2 linked regions of the Homo sapiens genome follow. The protein of the gene in region 2 interacts with the protein of the main gene of each other region in a pairwise test. Each region holds a gene or a part of one and is shown on either strand. Other genes may lie near its edges. The genes, in order: LMO4 and CRNN.

Region 1 (3,871 bases), about 65 Mb from region 2:
CAGATTTTCTCTTTACAGTTCCTAAAAACATTCAATTCACCAAAAATGAAAAATTAATTTAGGAAGAAACTCTAACTTAAGAAAAAACTTGCAGCTCAAACAACAGGTGAAAGCACACAAATATAGAAACTGTTTTTGAAGAAGTTGGGGATGTTAACCTTTTAGTTCAAGATGGGGGGTTGTTCCAGAGTGAAGGAAGGTGAGATGCCTCCCGTTCTCATGAGCTAATGATTGTTTCCAAACTGGTTAGAATTCAGTGCTAATTGCATTTTAAAACACCACCTCTGAAATCCTTTTCTCTCTCAGGATCTTGCATCAATGTTTCACATTTTCAATGCAACCTTTGCACTTCACCTTTCTCACTCAACAAATTCTGAATGTCAGATCTACGGGAAGAACTCAGTTCAGATCCTTCCTCTCCCCAGCAGGTTTTGATCTGGTGATGGTGATGTCAATTCCTAGGAAAGGCTGTCCTGCCCTGGTTCTGAGGGGAGAGAGACAATTAAAATCGGTACTTTGGTGACTCTACTCAGGCTTGTCCATTCTAACAGGGAGTCATTAAACAACTTTCCAGTGTCATTCAAAGAACTTATAACAGAATCAATTGATTTTCATCCTCTGCTTTATTAGTTGTGATTTAGGAAATAGAATGGCCCTGTTTACACAGCTGTAACATGTCAGGGCCTGTAGTACATTATTGGCTTGAGGCCTCCGAGTTGCCGTCCATTCTCAGCAGAATCAATCTGAACTTGAAAACATTCCCTCTAGGAAACATGCACATATCTACTAGCATAAAGCACTTCTTGCACAACTGAAAACAGTATTCACTTGAGGTAAGTTGCAAGTTCACCTTCCAAAAATCAGCCCTGACTTGTCATTGCTCTCAGCATGTTCACGATGGGAGCAGAGGGCTACAAATGCCTCTTTAACTAGGTACCCAGCATCGGCGAATGTGCTACACTTTGCTGCTAGTCAGATCTCAGACTCTGCAAGTGGGAGTAGCTGGCTGTTTAACATGCGTTCAGAGCACTGCCAATCTAAAATGGCTGCTCAGTAATACTTTAATTGCAGTTTCATGGAAACAAATTGCTATTTAACTGCAATAAGCACTTCTGTGACTTGGCTGCACTAACAATAGGTGAGTCTTAGTAACAAAGCTATAAGTAACATTAACTTGTAAATGGCCTTTTTCCAATGGCCTCTTGAAGGGGTCATAGGTGGGACAGCACCCAGGATAGAATTCCCTGGTGAAGGGTGAAGGGGTCTTTGGGGTGAAGGGTGATGGGGTTTTTGGATCTCCTCAATTTAAATACAATTAGTTAGGCTACATGGGAACTCTTCACTAGACTCCATATGTAGCTCTTGGGTTCACTGTTTATTATATGATTTATGGGCCCTAAGAAATATTTTATATAAATAGTAGTGCACATTAGAATCTTACTATATTGACATTTAAAGCCCTTTAAGAGCTTCCTTTTAGATGATTAGTTGTTTCAAATATCAGTGTTAATAAGGGCAAAAGAAAGAATTTAAATACAGGTAATATTAAGAGGATGACAATTTCACAGACTTCATTTTGGTGTGTCAGTTTTCTCGTTTTGTATTTTATAAGACACTACAGTCCGGGTTAAACTATTTCCTAATAAATCATGAAGAGCTGAAAATAGTTTCTAGTGGCAAACGATTTGGTTTGGAAAAGCTTCAGGCTCCCCTGCCTTGCGGGATGTGTAAATCTAATTAGACAGTTAGATAGGTAAAAAACATTAAACCCTTTTAGAGGACTATCTTTTTACAAAATTGTTTCATTAACAAGAGTGACAATTTGCATGATTGAGACATTTATATGTACCATAAACATAATTTTTTTTATCAGGAGTTCAGCAGGGCTCAGTAACATTTGCTTTTATTTTTAATTGCACTTGCTTGTAGGGACTGGGGGCCATCTTGCTCTATGACGTGGTTAATATTAAATAAGTCCTTTCTAAAGAACAGTGTCCATCTTGCTAACTAATAACATCACAAATGCAATGGATGAAAGGTGGAATAAACTCATAGATTTTTTTTTTTCCTAAGCAATGTTGAGATTGGGGGAGGAACTGCACACAATCGCTGCTCACATCAGAATAAACCTGAGTGTTTTTAGTAGCTTTCTATCCACACAGAGCATCCCCATTAGAGCCGGGTTTTATTGTTTGAAATGCCTCTGGTTTCAAGAAAGTGTTTTACCTAAAGCAAGACTACTACTTAAATATGTTCTATTGTATATTCATAGCTCCATTAGTCCTTCTCCAATTTAGCACATCAAAGAGAAGGCTTCATCACTTGCATGTGGATTATACTAACATGAGTGACATTTGTAATCTTATAGGTCTGCAACTTAAGAAATGCTTTTAGAAGCTCATTATTAAATACGCAGCAGTGCTTGAGGAACCAGCCATATAATAGTTTATTTAAAGTCCGTAATGACCTTAGCCCTCCACATCATTAAATGCGACAATATATTATTTACTAAAGTTATTAACCACCTCCTTTGAATTTGTACATATCAGGGACATAAGTGCTTATGCCAAAAAGAATATAGAAAATGCCTGCAATCTCATTAACCCATTTCCCCCTTTACCATCGCAGTCTAACTTCCTTCAGAAAGTTCCTTAAAGGAAAAAAAACAAATATAAGAACCAGAACTAGTTTGAAGAAATTCCCCAAGGATCTAATTCAAACAGACATCTAATTCAAACATATATATGTGATTTCTTCATATTATTTTCTTGCATTTTATTTTTATAAGGTTCTAACAAAACTATTCACCTCAACTCTATGCCTTTACAATCTCCTCTAGGAGGTTTGAAGTTCAACTGATTTTTTTTTTCCCCTGCCCTGGAATCTCTGAAAACAGGAAGTGAGCACAGAAGTTCTCAAAGGGAAGCTGACTGGTAGTTGAGATGTGCTGAGCTACACCTCTCTACATGGCTCCACGGCTATTCTCAGAGGGAGGGTCTACATCAGGCGCTTTTCTGGAACAAAATAAAATGCCATCTTAAAAAAGAAAATTTAAAATAGTAGCGTTCACACACCTGGTTTTATTAGCCTGTGATGGAAGTTGTAGTTGAAATTTGCTCACATCTAAGGAAGCTGGCAGTACAACCTCAGCCTCCAGGCCTATTTGGTTTTCCTCCTTCCAGCACTAGCTGTTATACTGCATGCTTTCCGGAGGGCAGCTCTGCGGGCAGTGCAGGCACTGTGGTGGACACTCTGCTGCCTGCAACCAGCAACTCAGTATCTCAAGACTAAGACTAAATGAAGTCAGAATCTTCCCCCAAAATACATACGGAAACGCAGTCAGTAAAGAAGTGTAGGAGCAAAACAAAATAAACACCTTACAGCCAACCACACGAGCCTAAGGGTCACCAGGAAATGGCTACTTCACCAATCAAAGATCACCATAAAAAAAGAGCTCTGGGTCCCTACAACTAAGTGAGCTTCAAAATATGTACAGGTATGACTTAGAAATTGTGACTTCCTTCAAAAGCTATAAACTCAATAAGAGAACAGGATGGTTGTGCCGTATTTTTTTTTATACATACTTTTCATCAATACCCAAGGCTTTGTTTGCTATTGAGAAAAAGAATAAACAAAATAGTGGACACTCAAGTATTTATAAACACAAAAGACTTACTGTGATATAGAAGTGTAACGAAATGCTGTTAACAGAATATTCTTGACTTATAGAAAGGACCCTGTTAGAAACTACTTTGTACCCCTGCCAATAATGGCGTGGTTAAGTAATTTGAAGAATACCTTACTGGCCCAGAGCTAAATAAATATACACTCCACCTCCCTCAACTCCTTCAAATTTAAAGTGAGCTTGTTA
Region 2 (2,848 bases):
GCCAGGCTGGTCTTGAACTCCTGGCCTCAGGTGATCCGCCCACCTAGGCCTCCCAAAATGCAGGGATTACAGGTGTGAGCCACCACGCCCGTCCCTATAAATCTTTATTTTAAAACTGTTCTTCTGGTCACTCTTAAAATAAACCAGAATTGATAGTCTCTACCCCATAACATGGTTTATATCTGGTGGGTGAGACATCATGAGAGGTCAGAGCTGACACTGAGGGGGAGGTAGGAAGGGAAGCACAAAATTCTGGCCCCTGGCTCAGTACCTGGTAACACAAGCTTTCTCGCTCTTTCCCTACACAGCCACTGGGGGCCTTCTTCCATTTCTTGGTAATCTTAAATCAGCTTTCCTGTGTGACCTTACAGGTGAATAGCGGTTTAACGCTATAGAATTAGAGGTAGTGAAAGACCAAGAGGAATTTTGCCTATCTATCTAAATACTAATTGTCTTTTCAGGGCCATCATAAAGAAAGCGCCTTTTGTATGAAACCTTTGCTGGTCCATCTCTGCCAAGTATTAAGTATGATATATAGCAGGAATCTCATATAATATTTTCTCAACTAGTTGCTCTTCAAAGGTAGGGACTATGTCCAGTTCATCATCTCATAACTCTACAGCCTTTGGCCTGTAATATCAATAGAAGGTGGTTGAATGAGACACAGAGGCCAGTGGCTTAAGGTTTTATTGATGCATTAGGGTAGATGGGGCAATAGAGAGATGTCAGAGATAAAAATAGTCCTGAAACCCCCCACAAGATGAGGACAATTCAGTACAAAGGGGTGACTTGCTCTGAGTCTTCCTGCTCCTGAGAGGGTCTGCACCGCAAAGCAGGTAAGAAAGAAGAGTTCAGGATAGAAAGCTCCTTGCAGAAATTATCTCATTGAGAAAGACCTAAAAGGGAAGCTGCATAATGAAGAGCTGATGTCCAGGGATGCACCCACTGGATTGGCCATGCAGGACAAGCCAAACTCTCTCCAGCTGTCTTCTTCCAGTACTGGACATTGGAGTCGGGGAAGTCATGGCTTGGTGCTTCTCAAGTAGGAATACAGCTCTCTAGCTGTGATGCCTCGCTTCTCTTCTGACTGGGCTGCATCCTGGCCCTGTGCTGAGGAAACACTGGTATGCAAGTTGCCCTGGTCCAGCCTGAGGATCACTGTCTCCCTTGAGTGGTCATCAACCCATTCCTCACCAACCACTGTGGGCTGTCTGTCTCCCTGCCCTTCTGTCACACAGCGCCTTGGGTGAGTGCTGCTCCACTCCTGCCTTCCTGACTCAGTGCTTGCCCCAGTCTGGGCCTGTCCTCCCGGTACTGTCTCTCCTGCCTCAGGGTTGCTCACTTGCATCCATCTTTGACCACTGCCTGGCTGCGTCTGGGTCTGTCCCTGTTCTCTAGCCCCTCCGTGGCTTACAGTTTGGCTTCTGTCCTGCTCCACAGTCTCGGTGTGTGACCCTGCCTGTATCTGAGTGTGTCCTCCTGTCACAGCCTGGCTGGTCTGGCTCCTGCCTTGACCGTGGATCTCAGTCCCTCTGTTCTGGCCATTGGTGGACTCCTGTGTCTGGGTGCTGGTGCTTCCTGTCTGGTGGCTGCTGTCCTGCTCCACGGTCTGGGTGGGTGTCTGGGTGTGTGTCCCTGCCTGTATCTGAGCATGTCCTCCTGTCACAGCCTGGCTGGTCTGGCTCCTGCCTTGACCGTGGGTCTCAGTCCCTCTGTTCTGGTCATTGGTGGCCTCCTGTGTCTGCTTGCTGGTTCTTCCTGTCTGGTGGCTGCTGTCCTGCTCCACAGTCTGGGTGGCACCTGCCTGGGTCTGAGTTCCAGATCCAGTCACAGTCTCACCTGTCTGGTGGGCTCTGTCCTGTTCCCTGGTCTGTGGCTGTCTCTCTGGCCTCATCTCTGTTGTCTGATTCCTCTTGCCTTCTCCAGCTTTCTGGGTCTGCTCTGTCTGCCCAGAGAGTTGTATCTGCGGGCTTATTCTTTCCTGGCTCTGGGACTCAGCTTGCCTGTCATAGCTGCTGACCCACGCAGAGCCAGTGGCCTGACCCTGGGTCTGAACCCCAGGCCTGTTCTGCCCTCTGGAACCCTGCTGGCTCTGTCTGTGGCTGCTCCCCTCATAATGCTGCCCTTTCCCCGCCCTTCCCACTTCAGTGCCACTTCTCTGTCCTTCGCCCAGCTCCTGCGAGGCCCCAGAGTGGAGGCTTCCAGACTCTTGAGAGCCGCAGGCTCCCTCAGCACTCTCGCTCAGTGTCTTGAAACAGGCCTGGGCAACTTTAAACACTAAGACCAGGAATTCCTTGAATTCCACAGTCCCTGTGTGGTCTTCATCCAGCAGACGCAGGACCTCATCCACAGTTGCTGGATCGTGGGGTTTCTGAGGAGAAGATGAGGTGGAGTCAGCATCCCTCCCCTGAGGAGGACATGGGCAGGTCCCTTCCAATCTGCTGCCAGCTTCCCCTGCCTCAGACCCCACACTACACACACATACGGCTAGAGCAGCAGCAAGACTTAATTGCCTTTATTTTTTTTTAGTCCCGTCTCTCTCCCTCAAGTGTAGAGAGCATTTTTTGTTTGGTAGCCTCTATTTGGCACAATTTCTGGGCTACAGGAAAATTAGATAAAGATTTATTGAAGAGTTAATAAATTATTGAATTCACAATGCAACTGTTTGGGCTCTCAAGTTGACTGTCTGGGCTGCCCTTGGCACCTTGCCCCTGGCACTGAGGCCTTAGTCTCTTCAGCAGGCCCAGCACAAAGAGCAGCAGGTTGGGAACACAGCCCCATGGGAATTCTGTGCGCTCCTCATTGAGGCCCAGATGTTTCCCCATGATAAAGAGGGAGGGAAGCAGTG

The links.
Region 1: the proteins of CRNN (region 2) and LMO4 interact in binary tests that used the Homo sapiens proteins (3 or more experiments, as listed by UniProt).

The regions. Positions count from the first base shown.
Region 1 is NC_000001.11:87,345,657-87,349,527, reverse strand, and holds the end of LMO4 (LIM domain transcription factor LMO4), read right to left. Parts: 3' UTR 605-3,871; downstream 1-604. UniProt on the Homo sapiens protein: Transcription cofactor. Plays a role in establishing motor neuron identity, in concert with MNX1, acting, at least in part, to disrupt LDB1-LHX3 complexes thereby negatively modulating interneuron genes in motor neurons.
Region 2 is NC_000001.11:152,408,573-152,411,420, forward strand, and holds the end of CRNN (cornulin), read right to left. Parts: intron 2,372-2,848; coding exon 1,022-2,371; 3' UTR 671-1,021; downstream 1-670. UniProt on the Homo sapiens protein: Promotes cell proliferation, G1/S cell cycle progression and induces expression of the cell cycle regulator CCND1. Regulates proliferation induced by pro-inflammatory cytokine response via activation of NFKB1 and PI3K/AKT signaling pathways.